Regions from separate parts of the Homo sapiens genome. Here region 1 is linked to region 2. The links come from fine-mapping of genetic effects on gene expression. Tissue or cell type: whole blood. Region 2 holds a variant in brackets; the other region holds the start of a gene. All regions are shown on one strand. Distances are between the middles of the regions.

Region 1 (9,094 bases), 27 kb after region 2:
CTACTAAAAATACAAAAATTAGCCAGGTGTGATGGTGCATTTCTGTAATCCCGGCTACTCAGGAGGCTGAGTTAGAAGAATTGCTTGAGCCGGGAGGTGGAGGTTAAAGTGAGGCAAGACTGTGTCATTGCACTACAGCCTGGGTGACAGAGAGAGACTCTGTCTCAAAAGAAAAAAAAATGTTCAATTAACTTACAGCTATAAGTATGAGAAAATTTTCTTTTTTTTTTTTTTCCTAAGAGATGGGGTCTTGCTTAGCTGCCCAATCTAGTCTCAAACTCCTGTGCTCAAGCAATCCTCCTACTTCAGCCTCCTGAATAGCTGGGACTACTGGCACATACCACTGCACTCAGTTTACCCGTCTTTAAAAGCATGAAACACAACATGAACAGGTTGTTGGCTCCAACTGTTCTGACAGCCACCATCTCTGCTTCTGGTGGAGGGCTGTTTAACAACTGGATTTCAGCCTACACTCTACCAGAAGCCCAGATTCTGGCCTCTCTCTTATTAAAGATACAAAGCCAAAGATAGAGATTTATCTTTAGCTCATTAAAATGAAGCCAAATAACACTGGCACCAGTTTCCATAACAACTGTCTCCCAGAGTGAAGAATGAAAAGGTTTTTGGGTGGCCTAAATGGGAAACAAAGATGCAATGGTCTGAAAGATCAAGGGTTGCAGTGGTAGAACAAATGATTTTAAGAGGGAAGATAATTAACATGTTTGCTTCCTAAGTTTTTCTGGGTAGTCGCAAATCATTTTTCTTCAAACCAAATTCTATTTCACACTGTCAATCTGTCAATGCACTAACTTTTCTGGTTTGCCGTCTTTGTTTTGTTTCTTAACATAGTTAAGAAACATAATTAAAGGAAAGGAAAAATGACCAAGACCAAAGGCAATTTGACCAACAGGCCCTGGAAGAACATTTCTGAAATGATACGAAGGTCTCAATGATACAAACTAAGCTAAGGCTGTTTTGTGAAGCTTCTGCTCTTCTTTCATGTGATTTCCCTCACCCAGATATACACACTCACGATGACATATTTGTACACCTGGCACATGGAGACCTACAAATATATGCCCATGGTTGAGATATGCCTGTAGAGATGTTGGGGCACTGTAGTTTTTTGCTTCTTAGTGAGTATTAAGAAAAAAAAAAAGAAAGTGGAGTGAGTAGAAAGAAGGATGGTGTTTCTACCCACTAATTTTAATATACTGTACTTTTTAGGATTTCAAACATTTCTTAAGTTTCAAAATGTGTATGCCTTGTTTTATGCTTACTGAAAAACTATTTTGCAACCAGTTACTTCCAGTAAAGTATATTGAAATTGGAAAAAAAAAAAAAAGGAGTGAAAAGAGCTATTTTTATAATTTATCCTTTTCCTAGCTTTAAATGTTTGGACTAAAAACTCCTAAGTTGTTTTGTTAATCCTTACAGTCGTTTTCTCTCACCAGCTCACCAGTTTTTTCTGGCTCCATTTTCTCCCATATTCTAGAGGTTGTGAACTGAGAAACTCCAGGGACCATCTTGTCCTCCACTGGAATGCACTTTGGTTCTTGCAAGCTTTTGAATCATCCAAAAGCTGAAGCAGGACTTCGGCTGCCCTGGCAGGACTTGAAACTGTAACACAAAAGTACCTGAGACAGGTCTCAATCAATTTAGGAAGTTTATTTTGCCAAGGTTAAGGATGGGCCAGTGACACAGCCTCAGGAGGTCTTGACATGTGCCCAAGGTGGTCAGGATACAGCTTGCTTTTATACATTTTAGGGAGACATGATACAGCAATCAATACATGTAAGATTTTTACATTGGTTCGATCTAGACGGGCAGGACAACTTGAAGCTGGGCGGGGGGTGGGTGTTTCCAGATCACAGGAAGATTTAAACATGTCCTGATTGGCAATTGGTTGATTGAAAAAGTTATTATCAATAGAAAGGATGTCTGGGTTATGATAAGGGGTTGTTAGACCCAGATTTTGTCACACAGACGAAGCCTCCACGTAGCAGGCTTTAGAGAAAACAGATCTTAAATGTTTCTTATCAGACTTATGGTCTATGTTGATGTTAATTACGCATGTCCAACCCCCCCATCCCCTTTTTCATGGCCTGAACCAGTCTTTCAGGTTAAATTTTAGAGTGCCCTGACTGGGGAAAGAGTCCATACAGATGGTCGTCCATTCAGATGGTTGTGGGGGGCCTTCAAATTTTATTTTTGGTTTACAAAACAGAAAATGGAAGCACCTTGCTTCCCACTTCAAAGCCCGTTTCATGACACACACTCCCATTAAATTACATGGGATACAAAACAAAGCTTTCTATGCTGGGAAAGAAATACACTCTACAACATCTTTTTTGAGGTTAGTAATTATGGAAAGCATTTTCTTCTGCAAAGGAATTCCACGCCCTATAAATTTAAATTATTAGCTTGTCATCTCCAAGAGATCAGCATCCTCATAAACGGTGAGAGAAGGAACACAGAATACAGGATCCAGCACAGTTTCGGGATTCTGGCTTCTTTGCCAGACTTATCTTTGCTTACTTCTTTGTATAGACTTACTTCTTTGCCAGACTTATCTTTGCTTACTTCTTTGTATAGACTTACTTCTTTGCCAGAAGTATATTCAAAAAAGTTCCGTGGAAGCATCAAATCAACCACCTCTACTTATGATTTCCATGCATCTCTGGAATGCATAAAGCATGATTTCAGAACATGTTCTAATTCTAAGACCCTTCTCTTCCCGGCAGTTTAAAAAAAACAAAAAACAAAACGTCGTATCTTTGAGCATTGGTTTTCAAACATCACAATCACTTTAACATGACCTGAAATGCTTGTGAAAACACAAACTGCTGGGCTCCAGCAGGTTTCTGACTCAACAGGTCTAGGGTGGTGCCTGGGAATTTGCATTTCTAACTAGAGTTCCCAGGTGGTGCTAATGTTCCCAGTTCAGAGACTTCAATTCGAGATCCACTGCAGTATCCATAACTTTTGCTGATTTCCTTCAAATCATGATACTTCAGGGCTCTCTGCATCACCTCTACTGAGGAGCCCTACCCATTAAAGCTGGGGTAGGTTGGCCCAAGAATGGAACCGGGATCGTTGAGATTTCAGCACCCCAGCATTTTTTAGTGACTGAAATAATGAAAATTCTGATCAGGCTCCTGCTTGCTTGCACATTTTAACCACTCGCTTTTTGCCCAATATTCTCCTTGTTTCCACAATATAATTATAAACTGCTGAGGTACTGCTTCCTCGTCAAGAACAAAGAGGTTAACTTCAGGGTCACAAAAATGTTTGCAGAAGGGATGAATACCTCCAAGGGCTTTGCAACCAGCTGCGGATGCCTGGACGTCTAATTGCTCAAAGGTGTTATCTGAGACTGAAGAAACAGACTTTTCCCCTGGATTCTTTGAAAATCCCCCTCTCTTATTCTCTAGCAGAATAAAAACTCCCTGCTTTTTCCTTTTTACACACGGATTTGAGAGATCTTGTTCTCCCTCCTTCTGGCTTTTACTAAATTGAATGTCTTTCTCTATCCCCAAGCACCAGTATGTCAGTGTTTGACATCAACTGCACCACTGATACACGAGTCGGAATTTGAGCTTCTACAAGTACATTCCTTCCTAGGCCAAACACTGACGCTAAGAAATACGAGAACAGATCATCGCTAAACAGCAGCTGAAGGTCAGGCGAACTGACTCGCTGCGGAATCTGCCTTTGCACGTGATCAGTCGGACGTCTACACCCGCAGCCGTCTTCTGTCTCCGCCTCACCCTCAGGCCTGACGGTCCGAGTGGAGCTGCGGGACAGCCCGAACCTCCAGGTCAGCCCCGCGGCCCTCCATGGCGCTGGTGCGCGCACTCGTCTGCTGCCTGCTGACTGCCTGGCACTGCCGCTCCGGCCTCGGGCTGCCCGTGGCGCCCGCAGGCGGCAGGAATCCTCCTCCGGCGATAGGTGAGTTGTCCGCGACCCTTCTCTTCCCAGCCGGCAAAGAGCGCGGAGCGGCGGCGCCTGCGCACAGCAGGAGAAAGTGCGTGGGGGCAGCTGCCCCCGGCAGAGGCTCGGGCTAGCGGGGCCCCTGACGCGTCCGGCGTTGACCACGGCTGGTGGGCGCGGGGAGGGCGACCAAGGGACTACAGCGTTAGGGCGTCCAGCCGGGAGGCCGGGGCTGGGCGGGGGAAATGCCCTCGCCGGTGGGGGCGCTCCAAGGGCGCGTCGGCCGGATTTCGCCAGCCTGGCTTTTGTTTACATCCTGCATCTCAGTTGTTTTGTTCCTTGGGGAAGGAAGGAAAAGCTGCGGGACTCAAGGGAAGAGGAAGCTGGGAGTCCGATGTCCAGCACAGCAAGAGGCCCCTAATCGGTCCTGAATGGAGGGGGACTGCAGTTTCCCCACCAGCTCAGGGAAGTAAATTTCAGCGTGACTCACACTATCTTCTGTCTTGCTCGACCGAGATCAGTGGCTTTTTCTGCCACTCACCCAGCCAGAGCGCGAAAGCACCCTCGGGTAGACTCACCCCTTAGTCTACCGTGGAACTCACGGGGACTTCATTTCACCTGGATGTCCACTAGGTTTCCTGCGGGCGGGACCCATTTTATTCACTCCCAGCACTTAACACAGTGCCCGTTACAGTAGTGATTCTCTTAAGTGTGCCCTGGACCGGTGGCAGCAGCCGCCGCACTTAAAATTGTTAGCATTGCAAATTTCCAGCCCATCCCAGACCTACTGAATCTGAAACGCCGGCGTTGGGCTTCCACAGTATGCTGTTTAACCCACCCTCCGCATGATTCCTTTCGGCTAAGTTTGAGACTCACTGGTCCAGAATAGATACATTTTGGTGGGAGATTGTACAATGCCATCCGAGCCTCCAGTTCCAAAAATCAAGGTGCCCTCACCTCCTCAACTCCCTTTAAAAATAATTGCACTGTTAAGAGGAAAAACAAAATTAGAGAAGTGGGGTTCTGTTTTCTTTTAGGGGAGAGTTGTCCCTGAGACTCGGTAGCAGCACCTAGTGCTGAAACCTCTTTCGCTCCCTCTGTGCTTTCTCAGGACTTGGGAGCGCTCTAGGGCAAATATCTTCTCTTTGAAGGCCAAGTCCTCACGACTCAGCTGTCAGGTCTGAAGCAAAAACTGTAAATCTGGTTTCCGAACTGTGGCAAATGTCAGTCATTACAAGAAATTTCCCCAAAATGTTTATGTATACTGGTTTCTGCTTTTATTACGGCTTAGCTTGTGTTCCTTTAATTATGTGACCGGTTAGGGTTTTGAAATAAAATGTCTCACGTTGCTTGAGGCCACACAATGGCAAATTCACCTGTGTTTTAAAGAGGCCTGAATGAGCGCTTTCTGGGGACTCTGTGAGTCTTCACACCTCCTGTTTGGGAAACTGCAAGGTTGAATCCCCTCCTACTAAAGGGGAAGGAAGAGGGGTTACTGGAGTTCAGTGGTCTGAAGTGTTACTGGAGTCACTGGAGTTCGAAAGTCTGAAGTGTTACTGGAGTTCAAAGGTCTGAAGTGTTCACTCAGCAGTTTCACAATTCTCCTTGTTTGTAATATTTTGCGTATTTTCCACTTGATGTGACAACTCTCCTGCCTCCTCTCAGCCCCACATGCTTGGACTTCCTTTCAGCATCCACCCTGCCTGGCTACTGCTTTCTTGTTTTGTGTTTTTGCGTTTAAATTCCCAGTCTTAGTTTTCTGCCCTGTCAAGTCCTGGTGGTCGGACGACAGAAGTTCTAGGAAGCTTCACCTGTGTGTTTTTGGCTACAGTTCTTTAGATTGAGTAGGCTGGGACTGGCTTGTGTATTGGTACTGTTAAAGCAAACTAAATACGGCCTGAGAAGGACTCCTTACTTCTATATTTGAATCCTTGTGAATGAACTGTAACCTAGCTTAATAGTCAGATGAGACTGAAAACCTAACTTAAGAGTATGCACTGGTAACAATAGCTAAGTTTGGCCAATCCCAGCAGCCATACTTCAACCATTCATATACTGCTGAGTGTTCAAACTATGTTCAAATAAGGCATAAGGCGAGCTGAATTATGTCTGAACTATGGTTCATTGGATTCTTGAGAAGTTATAAAATATTTTGGATTAAAAGATTTTCTGGTATAATTTTGAGAGTTTTTCTAGATTTGCTGAACACACACACATATTTTTGGAAGTCTTTTTAAAAATTTATTTTATTATTTTATTTTATTTTTTATTTTGAGACAGTCTCGCCCTGTCACCCAGGCTGGACTGCAGTGGCGCAATCTCGGCTCACTGCAAACTCCGCCTCCCGGGTTCACGCCATTCTCCTGCCTCAGCCTCCCGAGTAGCTGGGACTACAGGCGCCCGCCACCATGCCTGGCTAATTTTTTGTACTTTTAGTAGAGACGGGGTTTCACCGTGTTAGCCAGGATGGTCTCAATTTCCTGACCTCGTGATCTGCCCATCTCAGCCTCCCAAAGTGCTGGGATTACAGGCATGAGCCACCGCGCCCGACTTGGAAATCTTTTTAAAGATAGTCTGCAGAACAGGAAAACGTGCTGTAGTAAACAGAACTTTGGACTTTGAACTAGGAAACATGGATTGGAGTGTGGGCTCTGCCACAGGCCAGGCCTTGGAAACACACATAGGCACACAGTTTCGTTAGGAGAGGGACATGAGGCTTCCAGATGTTCATTATTCATGAGTCCCAGGTTAAGAACCTGTCAGAGCTCTGTTCTTGGCTTCTGTTTAAAGACATCTTTCAGTGAATTTAAATGATTATCCCCTAATTTATCTGTCTGGAATGCCATGCAGTAGAAAGATCACTAGACTAGAAGTCTGGAGAGACTGGTTCCAGTTAAGCTTTCATTACTGAGTCATCTGTGATCTTGAGGATATCATGAAATTTGCCTTTGCCTAAATGTCATCATATATAAATTAAAGAATGTTTGTTGAAGGGCTACTATAAGTCATGCATATTCTAGATGCTGGCGATATAAATCTAGGTACTAAATTATATCAGAGGGGTGTACTCTTAATGCATTTCAGGTTTGGGTTTACTGAAACAGATGCTGAATATGTTTATAGTCTCTTTTCCCCTAATCTTCACAGTATCTCGAGTGTAGATATTGTCGTTATCTGTTTTCTTTCTTCTTCTTCCCCTTTTTTTTTTTTTTTTAGAGACAGGGTCTCTGTCACCCAGGGTGGAGTGCCTTGGCCCAATCTTGGCTCACTGCAGCCTCAAGCTCCCTGGCTCAAGAGATCCTTCCTAAGTTTTGTATTTTTTGTAGGCATGGGGTTTCACCATGTTGCCCAGGCTGGTCTCAAAATCCTGAGCTCAAGCGATCTTCCTGCCTCAGCCTCCCAAAGTGCTGAGATTACAGGCATGAGTACCCGTTTTCATTATCTGTTTTCATGTGAGGCAAGTGAGATTGGAGATATTTGAATGTGAAAACACAGAGAGGAATTGTATGTGGATAAGGGCAATGTGGACTCTGGAGTCAGATTTCCTGAATTCATAGTTTAGCCCTGTTGCAGATGATAGTTTAGATCTGTTGCAGATGATGCATGTAACTTGAATTTAATCTCTGTGTGCTTCAGTTTCTTATCTGTAAAATGGAGTATACATAATAATGAGCTCATACATGTGAAGCATAAAAAATAGTACTAAACATGTAATAAGTACTTGAATTTTAAGTATTACTTGGAAATGGGGTTTGAAGTTAAAAAAATAACAGTAAAACTAACATTGAGCTTACTTGGTTCCATACACCTTCTAAGGGCTTTACTTCTACTAAGTCACTTAACTCTCACAGTAGGCACTATTATTATTCCCATTTCATCAATGAAATAGGCCAAGATCACATAGCAAGATTAGTGGGTGGTGGAGCTTGGGTTGGAAGTCAAACAGTCTGACTCTGGCCTCCACTCTTAACCACGACACTGTATTGTTTCATGTTCATTTACTATACCCTTACATTCTCGAAATAATACAAATACATGTTCACGTTAAAATGATTCTCTGGGATGACTCTGAGCTATTTGCCATCTTTACTTTTTGTGCTGGGTAAAGTATATCTAAGATGGAAATAAAGATTGGGGTATTTTCTGCATTATGGAATAAAATAAAATTGCTTTTGTCAGATGTTTTCAAATAGTGACTAAGTGCCAAGTAATTGACCATACTACTACTTTCTTCTGGATCTTTTGTCTACCATTTCTTAGTTGTGAACATAAATATGTCATGGAATTATAATGACAACTATGTTGGGAAGAAACAACCACCAAAAGATAACTCACCCCTTTCACCTTAACGTATCAACTGTTTCACCTTATTATCCCAGCTTTGGGTTTTATTCAGTTGTAACATATTGGTAGAGTTTAAAGTTTGCATCCTACCTGTTTACTCTGTGCTTCTGGTGTAGTACATGCTACTTTGTCACTTCTGATGTGTTTCTAGTCATAATCAGAGTAAACTCAAAAACCCAAAAGTGTGGAAAAAAATCTCTTTATTAAAACAATTTGAACATGGTTTATAAGGATCATTGAATATATATATATATAAATGATGTATAAACAAACTTGGAAGCCCTTCAGTATGGGAGTTCAGATTTATTAGCTGTGTATACTTTAACAAATTTTCTATTTGACCCAGCACTGGTTTTTCAATTCTAAAATGAGGACCATAATTCCCAGTTCGGAGAGCAGTTTTGAGAATCAAATGACATAGTATATTTAAATTGCTTATCACAGTGCCTGGCACATAGAAAATACTTAATAAAGAGAGATACCACTGTGATTATTTGTTCTAGTATTACCTTCAATAAAGGAAACTTTCTTGGCCGGGTGTGGTGGCTCACGCCTGTAATCCCAGCACTTTAGGAGGCTGGGGCGGGCACATCACGAGGTCAGGAAATCGAGACCATCCTGGCTAACATGGTGAAACCCCGTCTCTACTAAAAATACAAAAAATTAGCTGGGTGTGGTGGCGTGCACCTGTAATCCCAGCTACTCAGAAGGCTGAGGCAGAAGAATCGCTTGAACCCGGGAGGTGGAGGTGGCAGTGAGCCAAGATCACGCCATTGCACTCCAGCACTGGAGACAGTGTGAGACTCCATCTCAAAAA
Region 2 (11,058 bases):
TATTAAGGTACTAAAAGAAGAAAATATTAGTATTCCCGTTACTATTTAATTTTATATAAAATGAGATAGAATTTGATCTTTACTAAGATTTATATGTGGATTGACACTGGTCCTTTACTTAGACATGTGTCAGTCACTTTTCATAGTATCCTGAGGACAGAGTGAACAATGGACAGGGGCAGTCTCACTTTTCATCCATTTTACCTTACTGGGCTTTACTTCATTGCAATGCAATAAAGCAAATTAAGTAAATTTGTGAATTATATTATCTAGCTTTTTTTTTTTTTTTTTTTAATTAACAGAGTCTTGCTTTGTTCCCAGGCTGGAATGCTGTAGCACAATCTTGGCTCTATGCAAACTCTGCCTCCTGGGTTCAAGCAATTCTTCTGTCTCAGCCTCCCAAGTAGCTGGGATTACAGGCATGTGTCACCACATCTGGTTAATTTTTGTATTTTTAGTAGAGACAAAGTTTTGCCATGTCGGCCAGGCTGCTCTTAAACTCCTGACCTCAGATGATCCGCCCACCTTGGCCTCCCAGTGTTATCTAGTTTTAATTAAAATGAGACTAAAAGACTGGGAGAATGTCTGTAAAACAACTGAGGATATAAGACAATGCTAATGCTATGTGTACAGTCTAACAACAAAAGATGAGTGCTGATAGGTGTTCTATTCCTAGTGCAAGTTCTTGTCAATCAAATTCTAAGGTATAAATTTGGGCCATATAAATAGTTTTAACAAAAAAAATCGCTAAGAAAGTTCATAATTATAGGATGACTTGAAATGTGAATTTATGTCCATTGTTCCTGAAGATAATCCTTACCCTAAGTATATGCTGGGCTTTGAAATTGTAGCCAACAGTATTATGAAGCCATCTACAATTAGGAAGACAATATATAAAAATATTACTTATGTCATCTTCATCTCATTGTCTCCACATTATATTTTATATGTTTTATAATGTTCACACTATGTTAATATGGTAATATGTGCATATAAGTTATGAATAAATAAATATACATATATCAGGTTGTCAAACTTTTTTGATGGGGTAAAACATAAAAATTATTTAGGGACCACTGCTCAATAGGACAGCAATTAGCATGACTGCTTCTAAATCTTATAGTGGAAAATGGTAGAGCTACACAATGCTCTAAAGAGTTACTTAAAGAAACAAGCTCCCTTGGGACCAACATAATATTCTGTTCTCTTCTTGAGTTTTTCCTTTATGAAGTTATAAAGCAGGGCCACTAGGTTTCACATACTTAGAATGAATTCCATGCTCTCCCATTCATTAATTTATTCAAACATACTTATGAAGCCTTTCCTTTTTGTAGAGTATGACAGTACAGAGCCTAGATGTTCCTCATGGGGGTTTCCAAATCAGGTAGCAAGAATTCTTGCCAACAATTCTAAACTGTTCTCGGTATTTGGCCACAAACTTCCCCCATAGGGTGTGTGTCAGCTATGCAAATTCAATTACAGAAAGAGGTCTGTCATTGCTCAAGCTAAAAATCTAGACATCCAAATAAATTCTAGTTAATTTGGTTAAAAACTGATTTCCAACAAAGGGCTATTTTTCTTCCTTCTTCTTTTCTTCCTATTTTTCTCCTTTTGATGCATTAAAATAATGCTACAAATCATTACAAGCATCCAATCTTAATCAGGCTTAATCAGAGGATACAGAATTTAATAATAGCTAACATGGATTGAGTACTTGCTGTGACATTCTTCTAAGCACTTTATTTGTAGTAACTCATTTAGTCCTTACAACTACTGTTTAACTGTGACAATAATGCTTATTTTAAAATTAAACTGAGGCACAGAGAAGTTAAATTAGTTAATTTTATATATGGTGAGGAATATAAGGAGGCAGGATTTAGCCCCTGGCAGTCTGGCCAAGCATACATGCTCTAAATAACTATGCTACAATACTACTCTAGCCCACTTATGATTCATTTGGAAATGCCATTTTTTCTTTTTTTTAAACTTTATTAAGATATAATTTACAGGCCGGGCACAGTGGCTCATGCCTGTAATCCCAGCACTTTGGGAGGCCAGGGGGTCAGATCACAAGGTCAGGAGTTTGAGACCAGCCTGGCCAATATGGTGAAACCCCATCTCTACTAAAAATACAAAAATTAGCCGGGTGTGGTGGCGGGTGCCTGCAGTCCTAGCTACTCAGGAGGCTGAGGCAGGAGAATTACTTGAACCCAGGAGGCGGAGGTTGCCACTGCACTCCAGTCTGGGCGACAGAGCGAGACTCTGATTCAAAAAAAAAAAAGATATAATTTACATACCATAATTGTACCTATTTAAAGTGTACAGTTTAATAGTTTTGACCAAGGTACACACCCAAGTATTCAAAGAGTCAGTCGAGATGGAGAACATTTCCATCACTGTTAAGAAGTTCCCTCATGCCCCTTTCAAGAAATAATTGAATAATTGATACTTTAATCCTGTAAAATGTTCCTCTTTGTCCCCAGTGAGGTTCATTGTCCTGAAGTCTACTTTATCTCATAATATAACCATTCCAGCTTCCTTATCATTAGCATTTGCATGATACATTTTCTTCATCCTTTTAACATATGTGACTTTATATTTATAGTAAATTTCTTGTAGACAGCATAATTTGGGGCCTGTTGTTGTTTTTTTAAGTTCTACCATCTTGCTCTTTGATTTCTCTTAGTCCTATCCATCTGCTCTTTGTTTTTTTTTTCCTTCTGTTCCTGCCTTCTTTTAGATTAATTGAATTTTCTTTAGCATAGTAATTTATAGCAACTTTTGGCTTATTAGCTATACTTCTTTTCACTTGATTTTGACTATGAAAAATATGATTGGGGAGTGATTTACATTGTAAAACTAATCTTTTATAAGTGGTTCTTTTTTACAAACAGCAAATATCTTAATTTGCTGTAACATTATATTGAATTTAAATGATATTTAAATCAAACAATTTTGATATATAATAGTGGCCAAAATTGATATAATAAAAACTGCAAAATGCTAGAAATGAGAAAATGAATATATAATAGTGATATATCACTATTATAACTTAAATGAATGCTTTGCAGCTTTGTAAAAGATTAGTACATGGTTCCTCATTAACTAATCAGATTTTTATTAAAATTCATGTCAAAGCAAGATTTATGAGACTTCCAGGTTAAAGTTAGCTTTATTTATCTGTGAACTCAAACATAACTATTTAGTTCTGTCCCTCTTCCCCAATTCTGTCTCTTAAAAGTTTAAAAATATTTTCTATCTCAAAGTTTTATTTTGGTAGAATTGTTTCGTTTGCTTTGAACTTGAATCGTGAGAGCATCTAGATAACTGCTTCCTGAGGTATGAGATAATGTTTTCCTGCAAGGTGACTGTTAACATACACAGTGGAAGACCTCTTAACTTGTCTGATAGGGTTTCTATGAGGTTAAATTTGAAAATGAGCCAAATACTATAGAAATACCAAAGAACTCTAGGACATTAGACAAAGAAGAAACCTAAGAGATGATCCAGAGTAACACTGTGATTTTCAGACCATTACTTATATGCTAAAGAAGTTAGGTTATCTAAAGATATACCCTGTGTTTTGAAACTGGCCAGACTATATCATTTATGTAAAGATGCACCCTGTATTTTGAACCTGGCCAGTAATCTTTCAGAGTCAAAACAAGAAAATCTTCTCGTAATAGGATTTCAATATAGGGCAGTCAAAGATTATTATATTAATTGATCTAAGTACTAGATCCAAACAGACTTATGATTAAAAATGCTAATCCCTGGGTTGTAGAGTTTGCTTCATTTTGGTTTTGTTTTAATTATTTTGAAACCCACAGCTATCTTAAGGAGAGCAAAAGAATTGATAACACATACTTAAATGTAGAAAATAAATATGTTACCCAAAGAAGTATCAAATTTTGGAATAAATGAAGTCAAAACCTCATGGCCTCTAAATGAGAAGACTTCATAAAATAATAATTTAATCCTTTCTGAAAAAGAAATCAATTTTAACTCAATTCTTTTCTGTTTTTCAAGTTTTGAAAAGAAGATGTTCAAATTGAGGCAACAATTAATAGCCTACCAACCAAAAATGGTCCAGGACCAGACGGATTCACAGCCAAATTCTACCAGAGGTACAAAGAAGAGCTGTTACCATTCCTTCTGAAACTATTCCAATCAATAGAAAAAGAGGGAATCCTCCCTAACTCATTTTATGA[G/A]GCCAGCGTCATCCTGATACCAAAGCTTGGCAGAGACACAACAAAAAAAGAGAATTTTAGACCAATATCCCTGATGAACACTGATGCAAAAATCCTCAATAAAATACTGGCAAACTGAATCCAGCAGCACATCAAAAAGCGTATCCACCATGATCAAGTGGGCTTCATCCCTGGGATGCAAGTCTGGTTCAACATACACAAATCAATAAACATAATCCATCATATAAAGAGAACCAATGGCAAAAACTACATGATTATCTCAATAGATGCAGAAAAGGCCTTTGACAAAATTCAACAGCCCATCATGCTAAAAACTCTCAATGAACTAGATATTGATGGGACATATCTCAAAATAATAAGAGCTATTTATGACAAACCCACAGCCAATATCATACTGAATGGGCAAAAACTGGAAGCATTCCCTTTGAAAACTGGCACAAGACAGGGATGGCCTCTCTCACCACTCCTATTCAACATCGTGTTGGAAGTTCTTGCCAGGGCAATCAGGCAGGAGAAAGAAATAAAGGGTATTCAGTTAGGAAAAGAGGAAGTCAAATTGTCCCTGTTTGCAGATGACATGATTGTATATTTAGAAAACCCCATCGTCTCAGCCCAAAATCTCCTTAAGCTGATAAGCAACTTTAGCAAAGTCTCAGGATACAAAATCAATGTGCAAAAATCACAAGCATTTCTATACACAAATAACAGACAAACAGAGAGCCAAATCATGAGTGAACTCCCATTCACAATTGCTTCAAAGAGAATAAAATACCTAGGAATCCAACTTAAAAGGGATGTGAAGGACTTCTTCAAGGGGAACTACAAACCACTGCTCAATGAAATAAAAGAGGACAAAAATGGAAGAACATTCCATGCTCATGGGTAGGAAGATGCTATATAGTGAAAATGGCCATACTGCCCAAGGTAATTTCCAGATTCATTGCCATCCCCATCAAGCTACCGATGACTTTCTTCACAGAATTGGAAAAAAACTACTTTAAAGTTCATATGGAACCAAAAAAGAGACCACATTGCCAAGACAATCCTTAGGAAAAAGAACAAAGCTGGAGATACCATGCTACCTGACTTCAAACTATACTATAAGGGTACAGTAACCAAAACAGCATGGTACTGGTACCAAAACAGATATATAGATCAATGGAACAGAACAGAGCCCTCAGAAGTAATTCCACACATCTACAACCATCTGATCTTTGACAAACCTGACAAAAACAAGAAATGGGGAAAGGATTCCCTATTTAATAAATGGTGCTAGGAAAACTGGCTAGCCATATGTAGAAAGCTGAAACTGGATCCCTTCCTTACACCTTATACAAAAATTAATTCAAGATGGATTAAAGACTTAAATGTTAGACCTAAAACCATAAAAACCCTAGAAGAAAACCTAGGCAACACCATTCAGGACATAGGCATGGGCAAGGACTTCATGACTAAAATACCAAAAGCAATGGCAACAAAAGCCAAAATAGACAAATGGGATCTAATTAAACTAAAGAGCTTCTGCACGGCAAAAGAAACTACCATCAGAGTGAACAGCCAACCTACAGAATGGGAGAAAATTTTTGCAATCTACCCATCTGACAAAGGGCTAATATCCAGAATCTACAAGGAATGTAAACAAATTTACAAGAAAAAAATCAAACAACCCCATCAACAAGTGGGTGAAGGATATGAACAGACACTTCTCAAAAGAAGACATTTATGCAGCCAACAGACAAATGAAAAAATGCTCATCATCACTGGTCATCAGAGAAATGCAAATCAAAACCACAATGAGGTACCATCTCACACCAGTTAGAATGGCAATCATTAAAAAGTCAGGAAACAACAGGTGCTGGAGAGGATGTGGAGAAATAGGAACACTTTTACCCTGTTAGTGGTAGTGTAAACTAGTTCAACCATTGTGGAAGACAGGAAGGCGATTCCTCAAGGATCTAAACCTAGAAATACCATTTGACCCAGTGATCCCATTACTGGGTATATACCCAAAGGATTATAAATCATGCTACAAAGACACATGCACACGTATGTTTATTGTGGCACTATTCACAATAGCGAAGACTTGGAACTAACCCAAATGTCCATCAATGATAGACTGGATTCAGAAGATGTGGCACGTATACACCATGGAGTACTATGCAGCTATAGAAAAGGATGAGTTCATGTCCTTTGTAGGGACATGGATGAAGCTGGAAGCCATTATTCTGAGCAAATTATTGCAAGGACAGAAAACCAAACACTTCATGTTCTCACTTATAGGTGGGAATTGAACAATGAGAACACTTGGACACAGGAAGGGGAACATCACACACCAGGGCCTGTCATGGGGTGGGGGGAGTGGGGAGGGATGGCATTAGGAGAAATACATAATGTAAATGACGAGTTAATGGGTGCAGCACACCAACATGGCACATGTATACATATGTAACAAACCTGTGCATTTTGCACATGTACCCTAGAACTTAAAGTATAATTAAAAAAAAGAGAAAACAAACAAGACAAAGAAAAGATGTTCAAAGGAACTCATGAACTGTTTCATTTATGACCCATCCCCTTTTTGTTAAAAACTGCATATCTTCCCTTGATGTTGTAAGTCAAAACGATGGCAATTTTGAACATGGCTTATGAAACTGAATACATCTTCCCTGCCCACATGCAAGACCCTTCCCTTTGGAAAGGGATGTGTGTATGTTTGTCTTTTCTACGAGTTGATGATCATTGCCTTAAAGTGTTTGCCATTGTTCAGAATCTAGACTTAATCCTGAGGATTTTGAAACATGATTTGACAGCAAAACTTGATCTTGTCTCAAACAGCAGACTCAAGCAACTAGGCTGTCAAGACTGTTGTATGCAATCAGACTTTACTAATTTGCAAGGGAAATATAATTGCAGAGTAAATGGTGTTACCAAGTCCACTGCCTAATGTAGTTTCTTCCTGCAGATAAGTAACATGAAAACATTATAATGAGAATGCCAGTTGATTGATTTTCAAAGAGAAAAATCTTCTTTTACAGGCACATGTAATGGGAAAAAAATGAGTCTCAGCTTTTTCAAAACATTTGTAACATTGCTGTGTGTTCATTTGGTATCTCAATTCTGCAATGGAAAAGACTATGGGCAATCATACTTCTTATGACATTACAGGCATCTTTTTCTCTGATTGAATGTTTATTGGATTTTTTCACTTATGTTTTATATTTATTGATCTGAATTATATTTGATTCAAAATACTGCTAGAATGAGAAAGTTTAGGTCCTTTTTTCATTAACCAAATCAGCTGGCATGGCATTTTGACCTCTATCTATCTTACATAGAGAGTTTAGATAAAGATAGATCGATTTAGATATGTATCTATATATATATAGCCTATTTTCAGCAAATGAAAGGTTTCCTCAATAATGCTTTTGTTTATTGCATATATTTTATATTCCAGTTCTTTTGATGTCATTCTTGGTAATCTGTGCCTCTTAGGCTATCTATTCTGTCTTGTCTAATATTTTTATTTTCACTATTCAAAATGTCTCTGCATTCTGAAAGTTCTCTTCAAACAATGGCATTCTATTCATTACTGTCTCCTATGTTGATCTGATTCCTTCTATTTAATTATTAATTTTCTTTAATTTTTTCATTACCTCATTTTATTTTTTAATTTTAGCCTCCCCACCTCCCTTTCATCTGGCTCATTTTTAAAATTTCAATCTGTTCTCTTCTTAGGAATCCTTGCTCCTGTGTCATAGAAGCCACTTCTACCTACTGATATGCCAAAGAGACTTTTTTTTCTTCTTTTTGCTTTGATCATTTTCTGAGAATATACTCTTATTCTCTGTCTTCAAGATAATGTGGCCTCTACTACTTTATTGTTTTTATAGCTCTGCCCACAGATTTCATGCTGGATTTGATTATATTTTGCTTCTCTTATTCAAGCAAAGAGAAATATTTATCAAGACCTGAAATTTTGTTACAAACAACAGGAAAGGATCTTTTTTTTCTTTCCCTCAACATGCTGTCATATGGTAACTGATAGAGTTCTGCTCTCAAATATGTAGCTAGAGAATAGGTTTAGAGGATCAGCTACCAGTTTAGAAACTGCTGTGAAATGAGTTGGGATATTTTCTACACCTATTGCCTACTTCCCTGAGGCTTTTTAACATATTGTATGCATATTCATTAGTTGCTGCTTCAAGTGGTTTTTAAGTATTTGTTCAAGATGACAGCAACTTTTATGTAGGTACTACACTTCTTAGGGTACAATATGCTACATTCAGTCCTTCTCTAACTTTGAGTGGTTGAAGAAAGAAGAAAGACTGTGCAGGAAAGAAGGAACACAGCTGTAATCACCTAGAATGTAGTGTTTCTGTTTATAATATCCAAGGAAAGATATATTGCCAGATTTCTGGTTGGCACAGACCTAGCATCCCACATCCTGGAGGCAGATGGTAGAGTAGATCAAAGACTTGCTTGTTTTATTTTAGGTCTTAAAGTCCATACAGTATTAGATGATAAAGAGCATATAACCCACCAGCATACACATTCATAATAAAAATGATTAGGGAATCAGGAATTTTAGGGAAAGGTTTTACTACTAAAAAGTGATTTTCTATAGAAAATTAACATCTAGAAGTGATATAAATAGGTGAACATTAGAAGCATTCCTGGAAAAATCAAGAATGAGACAACAATACACAGTATGGTAGCTTATATTTAAACTGAATTGAAGTCCTCAGTGCAATAATATTGTAAGAAATATTAAACTGGAAAGGAGGAAATTAAAATACCATTAATTGCACGTTTTATGATCATTTACATTGAAAAATATTCTACAAATTGTTACAAATAATAGAATAGTGTAGCAAGCAGACTAGATATAATATGTTTGCTAAAGTCAGTTGTATTTCTATATAACAGTAACAAACTAATAGAAAATTAAAGGGAAGACAACATTTTCAGTAGTCTCAGGGAACCTCAATTATCTAAGAATAAATCTTAAAAAATATGTAGAAAAGCCCTGCAGGGGAAATTATAAAACATTATTATGCAATATTAATGACTACATATGTAAAAAAGTATATCATTTTCATGACTAGGAAGTCAATATCATAGAAGTATCAATTCTTCCAGATCAATATATAAAATAGATATGATTCCAATGTAAAAACATAATTTTTTATGGATGATAATAAAATGATAGTACCATATATACATATATTAAGGGCCATAAATAGGATATTTCTGAAGAAGAGTAACAAATTGGGAGACTTGCTTTTCCGGTTATTAGGACTGTCATGAGGCTATAAAAATTGACAGCTTAGCAATGTTAGAAGGTTACAAACCTAATTGATTAGTGGAATTAAAGAGGGTTCAGAGAAATATATTAAAATACATAGAGGACTTCGGTAAATCACAGAGATGGTATTCCATTTAGGTGGTGAAATGTTCAATAAGTGGATTGGAAAAAATTATTATCTACATATTCAAAAGTGAATTTAAAACCCTACTTCTTATGATATACAAAAATCTACTCCAGCAAGTTAACGGTTCAAATGTTAAAACTTTAAATCACTTGGTGGCCAGGCATAGTGGCTAATGCCTGTAATTCCCCCACTTAGGGAGACAGAGGTGGGGGGATAGCTTGAGCCCAGGAGTTTGGGACCTGCCTGGGCAACATAGCAAGACCCTGTTCTCCACTAAAAGGAAAAAAAAAAAAAAAAGAAGAGAGAGAGAGAAAAAAAGGGCTTGGTAGAAAATATAAGTGAATATCTTTTGGACCTTGGGTAGGTGGTTTCCTTAAATAAGACATGAAACATATTGACAATGACATAAAATATTAATAAATTTGGCAATATTAAAAATAAGAACTTTTGGTCATAAGAAGCTACTTTAAAGAAAGTGAAAGTAAGTTACAAACTGGAAGAATATATTCATGACTCCCACACTACAAAAATTAGGATCAACAATACAAAATAAGAAAAACACAACTAACCTACAGGCAAATGGGCAGGAGAACAGACATTTCACAGAGGTAGAAATCATAGACCATTAAACATATGAAAATATGTTCACTTCATTCATGATTAGGAAAATACAAGTCAAGAAAAAATTAGATGTCATTGTATATGCATCTGATTGGTCACCATTGAAACTCTGTCAATATTAAGCATTGGGGAATATGTTGATCCACTGGTGAGAGTATAAATTGGTGAGTCCACTTTAGAAAACAATTTGGCATAACCTTCTAAAACTGAAGATTAACCTATGACCAATCAATGATCCATCAATTTCAATTCAAACTATGTGCCCAAAATAAACTATTGCACATGTAAAAAAGTTAATTCCTAGCATATTACATAACAATGTAAAACATTTTATGAAGATTACATTGGTATATATGTTTTAAGAAAATATGTAGATGCACTGAACTAAATAAAAGCAAAAAAGCAAGTGATGAGCATGAGATTCAGGAAGATGTTTACCTTGAGTTGGAGAAAGTAAGGAAATGGATGCAGGAATGTTTTCAAAGTCCTAGGCTTTGTTTCGAAAGGAGGATTCACATGTGGGTGTTTATTACATTAGTGAAAATAATTATGTAATTAGCCAAATAAATGAAAATTGGACCAACATGGACAAGTGATAAGATTATGACACTAACCAACGGGTATGATTAATTTAACTTTGTGCCCCCAGATAATCAGAATTTTCTCTTAGAGAAGGAGCTGTATTATATTAGAAAATACTTTAATAAGCAATTAGTACTGAGGTCATGGATTAACAGGTGTCAAAGAAATAAAAGAGATGGCTACATTACTCTAGATTAGAAATGAATAGGGAT

What was found. PIP is the estimated chance that this variant, and not a neighbour inherited with it, causes the effect.
Region 1: it holds the start of SMPDL3A, and the variant in region 2 is fine-mapped to the expression of SMPDL3A in whole blood (TOPMed, PIP above 0.99).

Annotation. Positions count from the first base shown.
Region 1 is chr6:122,785,508-122,794,601 of GRCh38, forward strand. It overlaps SMPDL3A (sphingomyelin phosphodiesterase acid like 3A), which reads left to right and starts at 3,751. Exons shown (of 8, transcript NM_006714.5): 1 at 3,751-3,951. The coding sequence starts at 3,840. RefSeq lists enhancers at 3,561-4,062, 4,063-4,562, 5,666-5,835, silencers at 3,777-4,071, 5,177-5,471 and a cis regulatory region at 5,751.
Region 2 is chr6:122,757,832-122,768,889 of GRCh38, forward strand. It overlaps a transcript of FABP7 not described here. Among named protein-coding and RNA genes, the nearest start is that of FABP7, 16 kb to the right of the region's middle. The variant G/A (reference allele first, on the strand shown) is at 4,212.